Regions from separate parts of the Homo sapiens genome. Here region 2 is linked to region 1. Evidence: fine-mapped expression QTL. A gene starts in region 1. The other region holds a variant in brackets. All regions are shown on one strand. Distances are from middle to middle. Region 1 holds the start of SYNE4 (spectrin repeat containing nuclear envelope family member 4). Region 2 holds the start of FXYD3 (FXYD domain containing ion transport regulator 3).

What was found. PIP is the estimated chance that this variant, and not a neighbour inherited with it, causes the effect.
Region 2: its variant is fine-mapped to the expression of SYNE4 in aorta (GTEx, PIP 0.96).

The regions. Positions count from the first base shown.
Region 1 is chr19:36,005,470-36,013,791 of GRCh38, forward strand. SYNE4 (spectrin repeat containing nuclear envelope family member 4) reads right to left here and starts at 3,344. Exons shown (of 8, transcript NM_001039876.3): 1 at 3,085-3,344; 2 at 2,748-2,898; 3 at 1,656-1,799; 4 at 1,281-1,475; 5 at 954-1,202. The coding sequence starts at 3,212. ALKBH6 (alkB homolog 6) reads right to left here. Exons shown (of 7, transcript NM_032878.5): 2 at 7,875-7,953; 3 at 7,552-7,620; 4 at 5,935-5,995; 5 at 5,425-5,576; 6 at 5,098-5,214; 7 at 3,651-4,084. The coding sequence starts at 7,928. The coding sequence ends at 3,821. RefSeq lists enhancers at 2,516-3,057, 3,058-3,597.
Region 2 is chr19:35,113,504-35,121,825 of GRCh38, forward strand. FXYD3 (FXYD domain containing ion transport regulator 3) reads left to right here and starts at 2,320. Exons shown (of 9, transcript NM_005971.4): 1 at 2,320-2,456; 2 at 2,761-2,856; 3 at 5,860-5,913; 4 at 7,575-7,607; 5 at 7,719-7,742. The coding sequence starts at 5,874. It overlaps LOC124904701 (hepatitis A virus cellular receptor 1-like), which reads left to right. Exons shown (of 3, transcript XR_007067238.1): 3 at 1-166. The variant C/T (reference allele first, on the strand shown) is at 4,725.

The DNA.
Region 1 (8,322 bases):
GGGGGAGGGCCAGGATAGGGATGTCATAGAGATGAGATTCTGGGGGAGCAGAGAGATCTCACAGGACAGACAAAGGCAGAGCCAAAGAAACCAAGAGAGGAGAGAATTATTTATTCATTCATTCAATAAATGTGTAATGAGTTTCTGTTACAAGCCAGGAACTGTTCTAGGAGCTGAGGACACAGTGGGGATGGAAATAGGCAAATTCCTGGCCTCCGTGGAGCTTATATTTGACAGGAGAGAGACCATAAATTAATAAGTAAATGAGGCCTGGTACAGTGGCTTATGCCTGTAATCCCAGCACTTTGGGAGGCCAAGGCAGGCGGATCACCTGAGGTCAGGCGTTCGAGACTAGCCTGGCCAACATGATGAAACCCCATCTCTACTAAAAATACAAAAATTAGCCAGGAATGGTGGTGCACACCTGTAATCCCAGCTACTCGGGAGGCCGAGGTAGGAGAATCTCTTGAACCTGGGAGGCAGAGTTTGCAGTGAGCCAGGATTGCACCACTACACTCCAGCCTGGGTGACAGAGTGAGACTCCATCTCAAAAAATAAATAAAAATTTTTAAAAATAAGTAAATGTACAAAGTCAAGCTGTGGTGAGTGCTGTTAGGAAATAAAGTAAGAAGATAGGAGTGCTCATGTTTGGAGGTCACGACAGGCCTCCCTGAAGAGGTGGCACTTCAGGAGAGACTGGGACAGTCAGGAGGTGAGTGGGGCATCATCTGGGGGCCTCAGGATAGGAGTGAATTTGAGATGGGGCTTGAGGATGTAGACAGAGACAGACGAGAGAGAGAAACAGTGAGATAGAAGGAGACACCGAGAGACAGAGATAGAGGGGGAGACAGAGCCACTGACACCTCCTTGGAAGGGCAGGATCTTGCTAGAAGGTGCGCAGAGATGTCCCCAGGGTGCCTGGCAGAAGGTCCCTCAAGGGGGTCTGCTCTCACCTCAAGGCCTTGTCCCCTGCCCTGGGGCCCCCTCTGGCCACACAGCTCACAGGGCACTCCTAGTGTCCGGGCTGTCTTTTGTCCCAAGGGCCCAAGGCCCCCAATGTCCCCCGCCGGATCCCACTCCAACTCTGTGGAAGTGGGGAGGCTACTGGGTGCCCAGGGCCCCCAGACCCCACCAGGTCCTGGCCAGTCCGAGTCTCCCTCGACCTCCAAGTCCTGGTCCAGCGTGTTGGCCTCCTCGAACACCTGGGTCAAAGGACAGAGGTCATGGAGGCTATGAGGTTGGGGCCTGGGTTGGGTGGGGGGTATCAAGATGGGCCCTACCAGGCTGTAGCTGACCAGCTGGGCCTGCAGCTGCCAGAGCCGCCGGAAGATGGAGTCTCGGTAAGCTCCCAGGGCCCGCAGGATCTGCTCCAGGGCTGCCCAGGCCCTGGGCTCACTCCGCTGTGCCAGCCCCTCACCAAACGCTAGCAGCGCCTCCACACGCTCAGCTGCCCCTCGTAGGTCCACCTGGAGGGCCTGGGGACATATGGACATCACCCCACGCACACACCAGGGACCCAAAACCTGGAGTTACCCCCCTCCCCCATTTCCTATCCAAAGGCCTGGAACATGCACTCAACCCATTTCCCATCCCGGAAAGCTGGCACCCACTGCTGGGGCCGTGCCCACCCCCACATCCTGGCCTCTCCTGCCTACCTGCAGCTGCACCATCCCACTCTGGGCCAATGCCCAGTGCCCCAGGCCTTGCTCCAGGTCCTGCAGCCGGCGGCCCAGCCCCAGCAGGCACAGGTGCAGGCTGTTCTGCTCAGCCTCTAGTACCTCCAGGCCAGAAATGGGGTGCTGGGGAACACAGGAGCCAGGTCAGGGCCAGTGGGCCAATCAAGATATCACCCCTGCTCCCATCCCCACCCCTCTTCTGTAAGCTTCTGGAAACTTCTCTGTGGCACAGTCCATCTCCGGGTCTGTCTGCACCAGGATGGCTCCCACTGGGGGGGCCTTCCCAGTGGAGCCAGGCCTGAGGACAGATATCTAGTTCAAGGTCTCCAGGTTTTCAAAGCTCCTGGAAACTTGGATGTGTGAGGCCTGGGGGGTCTGGACAGGGAGCGGGGCTGGGTACCCCCCAAGAAGAATGGGGCTACACCAGGAGCAATGATGAAATGCTTCTCAGCCGGGCGCAGTGGTTCACATCTGTAATCCCAGCACTTTGGGAGGCCGAGGCCCGAGGATCACTTGAGCCCAGGAGTTCAAGACCAGCCTGGGCAACATGGTGAGACATCATCTCTACTTTTTTTTTTTTAATAAAAAAGAAATATGGCTGGACACGGTGACGCACGCCTGTAATCCCAGCACTTCGGGAGGCTGAGGTGGGTGGATCACCTGAGGTCGGGAGTTCGAGACTAGCCTGGCCAACAAGTCGAAAACCCATCTCTACTAAAAATACAAAAAATTAGCCAGGTATGGTGGCATGTGCCTGTAATCCCAGCTACTCGGGTGGCTGAGGCAGGAGAATCACTGGGACCTGGGAGGCGGAGGTTGCAGTGAGCAGAGATCTCACCACTGCATTCCAGCCTAGGTGACAGAGAGACTCCATCTCAAAAAAAAAAAGAAAGAAAGAAATACGTCTCCCCAGTTGGTCAGATATTGAAACACTTTTCCAGAAGGTCCCTCCCCCTACAGACACCCAACACCTTTCCAGAATCATCACCCGGTCCTCAGTATGGAGGCCAGACTCCAGGGGACAGAGAGGAGGTGGGGCTGGCACAAGGGGTCTGGGTCACCTCAGCTCACCTCACAGTGTTTGCCCCCAGCTGGGTCCTCGTAGGAAGAGGGTGTTGACCATCTCGGGGGGTGAGCGGCAGGCTCATTGCCCCTTGGCCCACCCTGGAAGTGCTCAGGAGGGCCCAAGGAGTCCTGTCCCAGGGTCTGGGCCTGCTCTGGGCTAGGAGGCAGGGGGCGGTGACTGGGTGAGTCTCGACACCTCACTTTTCAGCCTACCGTCACCCCAACCCTGGTGGCCTCTCCTATGTCCCCAGGCGATCACAGCCATGGCACCTCCTACCCTCACATGGCCCCTGCCACCACGCCTACCCTTTTGGGAACAAGCTTCCAAAGCCCCGGCCCCCACCTCGTGCTCTCCTCTCCGGACGCGGGGCAGACGGTGCATCCAACAATGTCCGCCTCTCTAGGTGCTCCCGGTGGGTGGTTGAGGGGCTCTGAGCCAAGTCTAGGGCCCAGAGGCAGGGACAGGGCCATGGCTGGGGGCCTGGGGACACAAAGTCAGGTGAGGGCAGCCAGTAAGACCTCTTCCCTAGACAAGGGTGTCCCAGAGCTCCTCCGCTGGAGTCACCCGGGCCTGAGGCTGCAGGAGAGGCCCAGGACAGGTCTGGCTCCGCCCCTTCCAAGAGGAACCTGGACCCGGCCATTTGATGCCCAGCTCAGGTGACAGAAGAGTCACTTAACTCCTTCCTCCCTAGCAGGCCAGTAGCTAAATCTCCCAGCATCACTCCACGCCATCCAAGAGGGTTCCAGATAGAACCCCTGCGCCACCTCCTCAAGAGCCCTGGATTCTGCCCCACTGGGAACCCAGAAATCGGACCTCCAGGGCCTACCCCATTCATTTAAGACCCTAGATGCCGCTCCCCTCAGGAAACCAAGCATCTGGCCCCTAAAAAATAAAAATATAAAACCAAGGAAAGATTTTTTTGTTTATTTGGTATGGGGTCTTCTGTAGCTCACACAAAATTATTGGGAAAATAAATAACCCAGGGGAGCCCCCTTTGCCCACGGTTCCTAGGTCGCGGAGTCACAGCAGCCCCAAAGGGGCAGGAACCTGGGAATCCGAGGGGTCCCGGCCCTGGCGGTCACTTGCCCAGCAGGAGGCCGGCGCGCAGCACGCGGGGCACGCGGCGGATGGTCAGCGAGACCCGGGTGCCGCGCACCAGGCAGGCTCCCGGCCGCGCCGACGGGCAGGCTGCCGCATTGGGCGGCGAGGAGGCGGCGTCCAGCGCGTCTACGCGGGCGGCGGCGATGCCGTGGAGAAGACGCGTGTAGGCGGGGCCGCGGAGCACCAGCAGGCTGCGCGGTTCCAGCAGTAGCGAGGTGGTGGGCCGGGGCGGAGGCCGAGGCTGCAGGGCGGGTTGAGGGTCAGCAGGGCTCAAGAAGTCGGGGGGTGGGGGTGGGCGAGAGGTCGGTAGCCTCCGGGGATCAGCTAGTCCCCAGGGGCAAAAGCTGAAGAGCAAGTGTGCTCACAATGATGGAGGCTTTGGTGGTTCAGGAGTGAAAATTGCTGGGGCCTGGGCTGGGGCTGCTGGAAAGGGAGGGCGAGGGCTCTGCCGTCCCTCGGGAGGGGGCAGGATCTAGGTGGCAGATGGGGGCGTCAAAGGGTCAGCGGCCGGTGGGAGCTGCAGCTGGGATCTCAAAGGGGCTGAGGCTGGGGCTGGGACCCAGGAATAGGCAGTCCCCAGGAAATACAGGCAGAGCTGGGCTGAGAGAGCATGGCTGAAGCCAGGACCAGGTGAGGAGAGAGTGAGGCAGAGGTTAGAGGCAGTGGGGGTTCCCAAGGACATCAGGACATTAGAGGACAACCGCACAGCTGAGGGAGTGTCAGAGCATCCAGGAGCATGCAGGGCTCGAGGGCAAGCCTCAAGGAGTGGGTCGGCGTGTTCAGGGGCGTTTCTGTGAACACTGGGGTGCTAGAAATGCATCACTCAGAGAAATTGTGTCAAGGGGTCAAGGAGAATCTGGGGGTGTCCTGCACCCCAAATCACATTCCTGGAGTAGCAGGACGTCTGGGGCACCCTGAGCAGGGGCAGATAGAGCATCTGGGAGGAGGTGAGGCCCCCCGAGTTAATGGCGGTGGGGTATCTAAGGATATCAGTGTCTGCTGGGGAGTCAGGGGTATCCATTCAGCAGGTTGGGGCATCGGGGAGCCTGTGAAAATCATGGCATGTGGGACAGACACCCTGTAAGCAGATGGGTTGGGTGTCTGGGAGGAAGTGGGTACACCCCATGAGGGGACAAGGGAAGGTATCTGGGAGAGTGCCAGGAGTACCCCGAAGGCATGTGGGACCAGGTCATCTTGGAGGATGTGCGAGGTTGAAGTGCCTACAAGCAGCTGGGGCAGTGTCTGGGGGCCCACCTGTTCTGTAGGGTCATCGTCCTCTGGCCGCCGCGGCTCGTAGAAGTCCAGCACGGTGTGGGAGCCCAGGCTGATGGTGCTGACAGTCGGGTAGTACAGTGGTCCGTCCTCGTGGGGCTAGGGAGTGGGCACCAGGGCTGGGCAGGGCAGGAGTCCACAACCCCCACCCTCTGGGTCAAAGGGGGGCTTCCCAAGCCAGGGACAGGGAGGTGAATGCCTGTTTGGGAGATGTGGCTGCCTAATGAGTGAGGGTGGGTACAGAGTCCCCTGCCCCAGCACAGCTCAGAAGTCTGAGTGGGGGGACACGGGCCGAGGGTGTGTGGTTACCATGATGCCCTCCCCAGGCAGATACTGGTTCACGAGGACATGGTTAGCTGGGAGGCCTCCAAAGAGGCTGAGGTTTGACACTTTGTCCACGTAGCGCTGGAGCCATGGGGGCAGCCGCTCAGGAACCATCCCTCGGGGATGAGGAAGCCCACCTGGGGAAGGCAATGGGGTCCTGAGGGCCCCCCTATAGCAATAGATCCCCCATTAGGGATTCCACAGTGGCTGGAAGCACCCTGATCCTCTCAGGGACCCCTGACCGTTTGGAGATAGCCACTGGGTCCTTCAGAGGTTTCCTCACTTCTCCAGACCACAGGTCCCTTTCAGATACTCCCAACTCATCAGGAAATCCCTAATCCCTCAGGACCTCCACTGACCCCTTCAGAATCCTCCTGGCTCTTGGGGCCCCTTGAGCTGTCAGGGACCCTCTGATGTCTTAAGTCTATTGGACCTGAGTCCCCTGCCCCAGCCTACATCCCAGAATCACTCCTGCCCCCAGCCAGGGATACTTACCCCAGTTCTGTAACTTTCTCCCAGAGAGCTGGGTCCACTTTGGCTTTGGGGCATTAAAAACCTAAGAGGTGGGAAGGGGGTCACTCCTTTCTCAGGATCACCCCTCTATGATCCTCCCACCTAGACCAACATAGGGGCCTTTACCTCCGGGATGGAAATGGGTCATCTGTGTCTGTGGGACCATTCCCTGGGGCGGTGGGTTCCTAGGATTTTGTGGTTTGCCTTTTTTCCTGGGAACGCCTTTGGCCCCAAAGCCCACCTGTGTCTACCAGGATTTAGGAATCAGGGCTGCACAACCGTGGTCTGAGAGTTGTGGGTCTCACAATCTACTCAGAGTTCTGGGGCTGGACAGGGCTCTTTCAGCCCAGCAAATAGTCTGCATTCTAATTTCCTGATTCCGTGCCAAACCTGGTTGCTCATGCCTGTAATCCCAGCACTTTGGGAGGCCGAGGCGGGCAGATCACTTGAGGTCAGGAGCTCGAGACCAGCCTGGCCAACATGGGGAAACCCCGTCTCTACTAAAAATACAAAACTTAGCTGGGCATGGTGGCATGCACCTGTAATCCCAGCTACTTGGGAGGATGAGACAGGAGAATCGCTTGAACCTGGGAGGCGGTGTGGTGTCACACGCCTGCAATCCAAGCTACTCAGGAGACTGAAACACAAGAATCAGTTGAACCCAGGAGGCGGAGGCTACAGTGAACCGAGATCACGCCACTGCAGTCCAGCCTGGGCGACAGAGCAAGATTGTCTCAAAAAACAAACAAACAAAAATTCCTGATTCCTGGGCTCTCTGAGGACAGTTTGAGTTCTGCAACCGACTTGTTCCTATTGCCTGGGGGAGGGAGTATGCAAAGCTGGGCTATCTCAGCACAGCAAAGAAAGTACTTTGAAAATCTTCCACTGCCAAGATCCTAATGATCTAGAATGGGCTATCTCAGTCCAACAAGTCTAGCTCTAGTTGATAATCTACTCATTCCCTTCATGGTTATGGAGCTGTACTGGGCTATTTCAGCCCAGGAATTCTATAATATGTAGATTTTTCAATGCCAAGAACGCAAAGGTCTGGAATGGGCTATCTCAGCAAAAAAGTCTGTGTTCTGTAGCTAATTTTTTCCTGGACTCAAGATCAGTGGGTTACTCCAACACAGGGAAGATCTGTGCTCTGTAACTTAGGCACTGGGGCTGCAAAGGGCAGGAACTCTGAGCTTTGAAAATTCTTCTTTCCCCAAACCTTAAGAACAGAATGCAGACTGGGCCATCTCAGCGTAGATGGTCTGTATTTGGTAACCTTATTGTGCTCTGGGTCTATGCTGGGCTATTTTAGCACAGGAAAGAGTTTACTGGGCTATCTCAGCACAGAAATCTGAATACAAAATTCTTTACTCCCCAGTCTCAATGATCTGAACTGGGCTATCTCAGCCTATGTTTATAACCCCCTATTCTCTAAGCTAGCAGGATTGGGCTATCTCAGTAGAGGGAGTATGAGCTCTGTAACTTCCTTGTTCCTTCTGTCGGGGTCTTCACTGCAGCCTTGGGGGCTCTCATACAGAGGATGGACATTGGGGAGGAATATGGGAAGAGTGGGAAAACAGACCAGTAGGGCACTGAGGTCACCTGTCGAAGCAAATACTCCTCCTCTTCTTTGGAGATGAAGTCAGGGACATAGTAGATTACAGGTGGTGCCTAGGATAGAAAGACCCCCTGAAGGTGTGGCCCTTCAACCCACACAGAGGACATATCATCACAGAGCAACCCCTATGCCTGGAGACAGGCTCAGGATGTCCTCAGACAGGTCAGGGTCTAAAGTCAAGGGACCAGTGCCATTCCAGAATGGACTCTGACAGTAAGAATGAATTTGGTGGAAGGGGGCAGTCCCAACCCAAGAACTCAGGAATCAGCCTGCCTCCTTCACCCTCTGCACCCTGAGTTCTGACAACCTGCTCCACTCTGAACGGTTCCAGGGCTGGGACTCTGGCGTCCTGCTCCTCCATCAACACCAACTCCTTGCACCCAATCCTGTAGGGAGGGGAGGACATACTGAAGTCACTAGGCCTCCCGCCCTAACACCATGATGCAGCATTCCACCCCATCACAGGCCAGGCCTCACCTCAGCCCTCTTCTGAAACGCACTTGGTCTCTAAAATCTGAGTCTTCAGCATCTTACAAGCCACACAGAGAGCCCCTACGTTCCATGCCCGGACACAATGAGCCCCAAGAATAATCCCCCATTACTCTGTCCACTAAGGGCCCATCCAACTACACATATGCCTTCTCAATCCTCCCACAGAGAACATTCTCTGGCCCCACACACAGGGAGCCTTTCTCAAAAGCTCTACACATAGCCCCCAGGGCTGCACTCCAGAGCCCCTTTAAACACCTTGAGAC
Region 2 (8,322 bases), 890 kb before region 1:
CAAAGGCAAGGCCCCACCCAACCAGCACCCCTCTCATGGCTGGGGGTGCCTCCAGGCTGCCCTCTCTAGGGCCAGGAGCCTGCAGAAACGCTCCCAGCCTTGAATAAAGAGCAACGAAATTATTGAAACAAAATCAATAAAAGTTTGAATCAGGGATGGTATAACATGCTCTGGCTTTGATTCTGTGCTTTAATTCAGCGTTCCTGAAAAACTTATGATGTCAGAAACTATCTGTAGGTTTGGTTTTTTTCATTTTGCAAGAATTCCCAGGATATGGAGAAATCACAGCCACTCACAGCCTTAACAGGTTCTTTGGGCCCAAATGATTCCAAAAGCAAAACGAGAGAAACTTTTTCAAATATGTTTATTATGTATATTATATACAATATATTAATAAAACATATTACCTACATGCATTTAAAACATAACTGAAGTCAGATTGGCCCAGAAGACTCACTCCAAATGAGACCTAATCCCCAATAGGGTGCAAGTGACTGCACAAACTCTACTCCTCACAGCCCTTCCTAAGACTCAGTGTGCTCATCACACTAGGGTCTCAGAGTCCTTCTGACCATAAACCCAAGCCCCAGCGCCAGCCCAACACACACTTGGACGCAGCATGTTCACGTCCAGCCTAGGAAGAATTTATGGTTGACCTGGATTGGGTAAAAACCGTAAACGTCTGTACCTCAGAATGTAAGATCATGGTGTTTAAAACTACAGAACATTCAGAGGTTGTCAGAAGTCTCTAATTGCTGGTCCCCCAGGTTGAAACCAGCCCTTAGGTTGAAATTTTGACCTGCAAATTTTTTTTTAAATCTGAACCAAATTTTTTAAATTAAACCCCTTTAAGGTAGTACATTTTCAAGATGCAAAATTCAAAAAATATAAGAGGGCACGTGATAATGAGTGAGTCTCACTTCCACCCCACCCTCCAGCCTCCCAGTTTCCCTCTCCAGAAGCCATGGGTATGGATGCCAATCTCCAAAAATATTTTATTCATTACAAGTATATACATATGCATTATTTTACCGCTCACAAATGGTAGCACACTGCACGGTTTCCCAATACCTTGTTTTTTTTCCCCTTAGCAAGCTGTCTGGGAAATACTTCTGTATCTAACCACGGGCAGGGGTGTTCCTCCAAGATTTTTAGACAACAGTTCTCCAGTTCACCCCGTTCCGGTGAAGGGCAGAGCACCCCCCGCCCTTCCCAGCCACCCTGTACACGCCCCTACTCGCTCTCGGATGCCTGCAGTTCCCAGGCTTCCCAGCAGAGGGAGACACCATTCCACTCCCAAGACCACCAAGGGGTCGTCCCAGACACAAGCTTCAAGGGTCTAGGGAAGAGACGCTATCCGCCCAGACACAAAGACCCCCCTTAGCTATACTGAGTTGGCCTCCGGGCCTCCCCTTCCTGTTTCTATCTCCTCCTGGACCTGTTGCTTAGAGCCCTACCCCGAGGTCCCCCCGCCCGGCTTCCTTATGGGAACTGGCCCCGCCTTAAGAGTGGTAGGAGGGAGCCTTACCCTTGTCTAGGACCTGGGCTTGACAACTTGCCCCAGGGAACCACATAGAGAAGGGGTGTAGCGCTGGGCGAACATTGCCCTCCCCGATCCCTCAGCGATGACAAGTGGGGGGTCCTTCTCTCTGCCCCCAGCAGGCCAGTTTCCGGAAGAGCCTTGACCCAAACCCCCTTTTCCTGTCCTGTGCTCCACACTCCCAGCAGCTGCTTCTCCCTGGCCAGGCCCTGCAGCCCTCCTCCCCGCCCCCACGGTGGTGTTGGGGTCGCCTGGAGTCCAGCTGGTGTCCAGGGCAGAGCTACCCCTTTCCTGGCCCTACCCCTCCCCGTGACCCCAATCCTCCGCCAACCGCTCAAAGGATCCTTGTTCTCCATCCAGCCCCCAGACAAAAGTCCCTCTGTCTAAGAAGGCGGAATTGAGGGGAGGGGGCACCCCCAACTGGGACCATGGGGGAGCCTGCACAGACCCCATCCGGAAGGAATGCCTGGAGGAGGAGGAGCAGGAGACAGGGGAGGAAAGGGGGAGGGAGGCTTGTACAGTGCTGGGGGCCTTATGTGGACTAGGAGGCAGCCGCCCCCACCAGCACCCACTCTGTAGACCCAGGCGTCTGGCTCCCAGCACCCACGGAAAGAGCCTGGCTAGGAAACTGCAGCCTGGTGCCTGGCAGACAGTTCTCATTCTCCCCAGGGCAGGGAGCAGGTTATGACCAGGACTAAGGTCCCAGAGTCCCCACCCTGACCCCTCCCTGCTGTTCCAGCCGCTCCCTCATATCCACCCCTGCCCCATCTCCTGACTTTGGTCACGCTAGCATCTTCTGCTGATCCTGAAATTGTACCAGCGGCAAGATGTGGCCTGGAAGGGGACTTTAAGTTCTCCACAACTGCCAGCAATCCTTCCACCAGGCAAAACACATCATCTAAGGAAAAGAAGTGAGGTCGGAACACCAACGCATCATCTCACTGCATGGCCCTGGAGGCTCTGCCGTTTAAAGACCCCAGAACCTTCCCCATTCAAGGTCCTCTCCTGGGCACAGGAGATTGGAGAAAGCTCCTCCCTTAATTCCAGGGGCCGAGTTCCAGCCCATCCAATTCTCCGTCTCACCTGAGGCTGCTGTGGTCCTGGTGACCCCAGGGAGCAACCTGCCGCCCATGGCTGGGGAGGGGGTGAAGCTGTCTCTTTAAGAGCAGGAATGGAGCCCCTGGGCCTCAGGGCATCTGACTTGTTTTCTACCTGCCCAGGTTTGCTTAGGGCGTGGCAGCTTCGGATAAACGCAGGACTCCGCCTGGCAGCCCGATTTCTCCCGGAACCTCTGCTCAGCCTGGTGAACCACACAGGTGAGCAGCTGGGGCCCCTTCCTCCAAGCCCTCCTTGTCTCTGCCCCTAAATTAGGAAGTATCTACCTGCCCCCTGACCCTGCCCCATAGAAGCTTTTATGTTAAAGCGCCTAAAATCTTGTGAAATGCTTTTCTGGAGCCAGGAGATAAACGGAAGTCCCTTCCCCTAATGTCCCTTTCCCCACCATTCTCCTCTCAGGGACTTGTTGAACCAGCTGAGGTGAGGGCAGGACTGATAAGTGTGGTTGGGGTGTCTGAAAGACTAGTGTCTGCATGGATTAGGGATATCTGGGTTGGGGATAGCTGGGTGGAGGAGAGGGGGTGCCTGGGTAGGTAGGGGTATCTAAGTGGACCAGGGGTGCGTAGATGGACTGGGGACATCTGGGTGGATGAGGAATGCTGGGTGGACTCGGGGTGTCCAGACATTGAGGGATCTGGGTGGATAAGGAGTGCTGGGTGGACTCGGGGTGTCCAGACATTGAGGGATCTGGATTCTGGAGACCTCCAGGAAAAAAGGATGGAGCTGCTGGGGGAAGCTTTAAATGGGGAGTTGCTTGGGAGATTTCAGGAGCACACAGCGGGCAGGATCTTTCTACCCACCCCTGAACATGAGACCATTCTCCCATGGTATGGAGGAATAGAGGGGATAGCAGAGGGCAGGTGGGGGAAACAGTCCTCAGGCCGGCCTTGGGACCTCATGGCCAGGAAGGATGAGAGCAGGTAGACAGAGCATCAGCTGCAGGGCTGCCTTCCTCTCTAACCTGCTCACCAACCACATCAGTTCGGGAGCAGCCCACAGCCTCTTCAGACAACAGCCTGAATGGGGAACGTGAGGGCAGACCCAGCTCCCGGCTCCCTGCAGCCTCCGGAAGCATGGGACTGGACGTTGTTTTGCAGAGGCTGGGGCGAGGAGGATACCATCTGTCAGTCTTGGCTGGATGACATCATGGGAAGGGGGTATAGTGGGGCCTTGCAGGCCAGAGGTGGCTTGGAGGAGCCCCTGGAAAGAGGCTTAAGAGGTGAGACTCAACAGCCATGGCGACAGAGCATAGGGCTTTAAGATGAATTTGCAGGGGTTACAGGATTACAACTGCAATGTGGGCTAATAATAGTGCCCCCTGCATTAAGCTGCAGAGATTGAGCGAGTAAGTGGGAAGCTGAGAAAATGCCCCCATGGGGTAGACACTCAATAAGCATCTGCTGTTATTACCAGGACTCGTATGGTCATGGGTGACAGCTTCAGACCACAGGCAGTCCACCTACAACCTGTGCCCCTATCCAACATGCCATCCTGCCCACCCACCCACGCCAGCTCCCCCAACCCCCAACACTTTTGGGGATCCTAAACACTTCCTGGGCCTCAGTAATGCTCCCCAAAGCCTCAGGCTTTCTTCCCGCAAAAAAAGGAAAAGAAATGGATGCTCCAACTAAAATTGTGAGTTCAGCATGTGGAATTAACTGGGAAGCTGAGAGGATTCCCAGGCCCTGGGGTGCCAGGCAGAGGGAGGAGTCTGTGCCAACCTGCAAGGACCACCCGCACCGTTGGTTGCGGGCACCACCCTCTCTCAGCATTTTTGCTGTTCGTGAAATGAGGACATAGTGGACGACGTCGGGGATTGCTGGGGGGTTAAGTGAGTGAGAACACGGCAAGGTCAGTGTGCACTCCAGGGCAAGGTGGAGGAAGTGCCAGCTCTCGCTATCAAAATTATAACTAGGCCAGGCGTGGTGGCTCACACCTGTAATCCCAGCACTGAGGGAGGCCGGGGTGGGTGGATCACCTGAGGTCAGGAGTTGGAGACCAGCCTGGCCAACACAGTGAAACCCTGGCTCTACCAAAAATGCAAAAATTAGCCGAGACTGGTGGCACA[C/T]GCCTGTAGTCTCAGCTACTCAGGAGGCTGAGGCAGGAGAATCACTTGAACCCAGGAGGCAGAGGTTGCAGTGAGCTGAGATTATGCCATTGCACTCCAGCCTGGGTGACAGAGTGAAACTCCGCCTCAAAAAAAAAAAAAAAAAAAACAATTATGATAACTATGCACTCAGCATTTGGGCAGGGACAGGGCAGGGACAGGGCAGGGGAGGGCATGCTCGGAGGCCAGGGCTTGGTGCAGCCTTGCAGGCTGGTGAGAGGGCAGGACTGATGCCAGGTCAGGAAGGAGAGAGAAACGAGTTCCTTATGCTGAGCAGGTCTACCTGGGAAAGAGAAAGTGTTTGCTGTCACCAGGAACTCTGCTGGGCCTAGGGTAGGGTCAGGGGCTGGGCTGGGGACCCCGGCTAGGCAGAGCCAGGGCTGGGACCGGGAAGGGCATGGGTGTGGGATGAGGGGCAGGAGGTTCGGGGGAACAGAGATGGAGCTAGGGCTGCAGCCAGGAGGTAGAGTCCCCCTCTACCCCCAGTCCCAGCCTCACGTCAATTCCTCCACACACCACCCCACCCCCAAGCAGCTTGAAGAACCTGCTCAGTCCTCAGCCTGAAGTCTGCAATGTCCTGGCAGGGCCGGGCAGGCTCTGAGCGGTCTACGGAGACACTCCTGGGAAGCGGGCCTCCTGCCGCCTGGCTCCCAATGCCCCGCTTCCCCAAACACCCCAAGGCCCTGACAGTCCCTAGTTAGGAGCAGCTGCTGGGGAGCCAGGCCTGGCTTAAATCCTACTTCCTGGCTAGAGCACCTAGTTTCACCTCTCAGAGCCTCAGTCTCCCCATCTGTCCAGTGAGGACAACAGCGGGCAGTGGCGCCCTTGTTTGGTTGCGGGGCGATTCCCAGAAAGCCTGAAGTCCATGTCCAGTGAGTTATTATGGCTCCTCCCGCCTCAGGCCCGAGTTTCACCCAGTCCCCACTCCACGGTGCAGCTGCGGCTTATCTCTCAGCCCAGCGAGATGCCAGCCTTCCTGTCCCGGGTGAGCTGCGCACCCTGCCTGGGGAGCAGGGGAGGAGGGTTGGGGAGCCACAGGCACAGGGCCAGCCTCCCGGTGGCTCTGCTAAGGCCAGACCTCCCGCCACCCCTCTAGGCCAGCGCTCTGACATGCAGAAGGTGACCCTGGGCCTGCTTGTGTTCCTGGCAGGTGAGTACCCATCCCCCGTCTGCCTTTTCCTCTGGATCCCCTGGATGCGGGGATCCAACCTCTGTCTCTCTCCTGTGCTTTTCTACCTCCCCGGGAAGGTGGTAAATGTTAGAACAGCATCTCCCTGAGGGTAAGAAAAGTCAGACTAGTGATAGCCGGGGATACACGAGAAGAGCTGGCTCACACAGCTGGAAAGTCACCGTCTTCCCCATTCTCTCGATCTCTTCTTTTTTTTTGGCTTTTTTTGTTTTTGTTTTTGTTTTTGTTTTTGTTTTTGAAAGGGAGTCTCTGTTGCTCAGGCTGGAGTGCAATGGCGCAATCACAGTTCACTACAGCCTTGAACTCCTGGGGTCAAGCGATCCTACTCTCTTAGCCTCCTACACAGCTAGAATGCCAGGCACACGCCACCATGCCCAGTGCATTTTTGATTTTTTGCAGAGACGAGGTCTCACTGTGTTGCCCAAGCTGGTCTCAAACTCCTGGCTGAGTTTGATCCTCCCACCTCAGCCTTCCAAAGTGCTGGGATTACAGGCATGAGCCACACTGCACTGGCCTTGATTGACTATTAAACAGAAATAACGGAAGCTAGAGAAGATGATGAAATGACACCTTCAAAGCACTGAAAGAAGATAACTGCCCTGCCAGTTCTCTAAAAACTTCAAGTAGAAGGCTCAGCTCAGTGCGACTGCATCTTTAACTTCCAAACACTTTTCCCTTTTTTCTTTTCTTTTTTTTTTTTCGGAGACAGAGTCTCGCTCTGTTGCCCAGGCTGGAGTGCAGTGGCATGATCTCGGCTCACTGCAACCTCCACCTCCCAGGTTCAAGCGACTCTCCTGCCTCAGCCTCCCAAGTAGCTGGCATTACAGGCGTGTGCTGCCATGCCTGGCTAACTTTTGTATTTTTAGAAGAGACAAGGTTTCACCATATTGGCCAGGCTGGTCTCGAACTCCTGACCTCAAGTGATCCTCCTGCCTCGGCCTTCCAAAGTTTTGGGATTACAGGCCTAAGCCACTGTGCCCAGCCCGCTTTTTACTTTTTCACTGCAGCCTTGACCTCCCAGGCTCAAGAGATCCTTCCACGTCAGCCTCCCAAAGCTCTGGGATTACAGGCACACTTTTTGTCCATTACATAGGGCAAGACCAGTATTCCCTGCAGGGTAGTGATCTAAAATTACATTTTCAATAAAGTCTATTTAAGTGTATAATAGTGAGTCATTTTCAATGATGTGCAAACACCAGACCAGGTGGGTGTGGACATGGTGGAAGCGGGAGGATGGGCTTTGAGCATGATTGGACTTGGGGAAACAGGAATCTGGGAACTGAAACCATCTGTCGTCTTGACCAGAAAAGTCCCCCGCTGCTGCAGGAGGCATGGATTAACCACGTGTCTGGAAACATGAGACCAAATAGTGGCTAAAAACCTCCTAGATTAGAACCCATTTCAGGTGGCAGAATGCTGGCGTGACTCGGAGGTGTGGGGCTGAGTGGGCGAGTCCACATTTCCTCGTTGGGATATGAGGGGATGAGGTGGCTGCTCAGTGACAGGACCCCTGTCCCGCAGGAGACCCTTTCCCAAGGCCCCTGAAACTCCCCAGGCCCTGCCCAAAGGCTTGGCTGAGGCCGGCATCACCATCTCCCCTCCTTCCCCTCTTCTCCCACTAGGCTTTCCTGTCCTGGACGCCAATGACCTAGAAGGTGAGTCAGACTGGACTCTCACCCGTCACACCCCCAAATTCTCCCCTGGGTGGGGAAGGCCTGCATCCTGGCTGTAATCCTGGATTCATGATCTTTTTTCTTTCCTTGCAGATAAAAACAGTCCTTTCTACTATGGTGAGAGCCCGTGCCCCCTTTCCCCTCCCCACAACCCCACATACTGCTTGGTGCCAAGGGTTCCCATACAGGGTTGGGGCCTGACGTGAGCATCACAGGACAAAGATACGAAGGGACTAGGATGGGGTTACTGAATATGCCACACAGTGGATTAAAGGAACTAGAGGCAGCAACCTGGCCTTTGGGAAGGTTCTATTCCAGCAAGATAGACACACGCAGGAGGTGAGGACAGTTTGCAAGAAGCCATTGGTTGGTTCAGATCAACTGCTGGGAGAAGTGTTGACTTGAGAAAACTTCCTGGAGGTGGTGAGCTATTGGATCAAAACCCTCATCTGGCCTCCAGGTTCCAATGACCTGCTCCCTACTCCCCGCTCTGCCCTCACCTCTCCACGCTCCTCATTCCTTCTGCTCCAAGCCTCTCAGACACAGCAGACATACTGCCAGCCTCAGACCTCTGCACCTGCTGGTTCCTCTGCCTGGAACACTTCCTTCCACAGAACCACATGGCTCCCTCCCTTCCCTCTGCTCAAATGCAGCCCCCTGAGAGGCCTTCCCTGACAACTCCCTCTAAAAGAGCTGC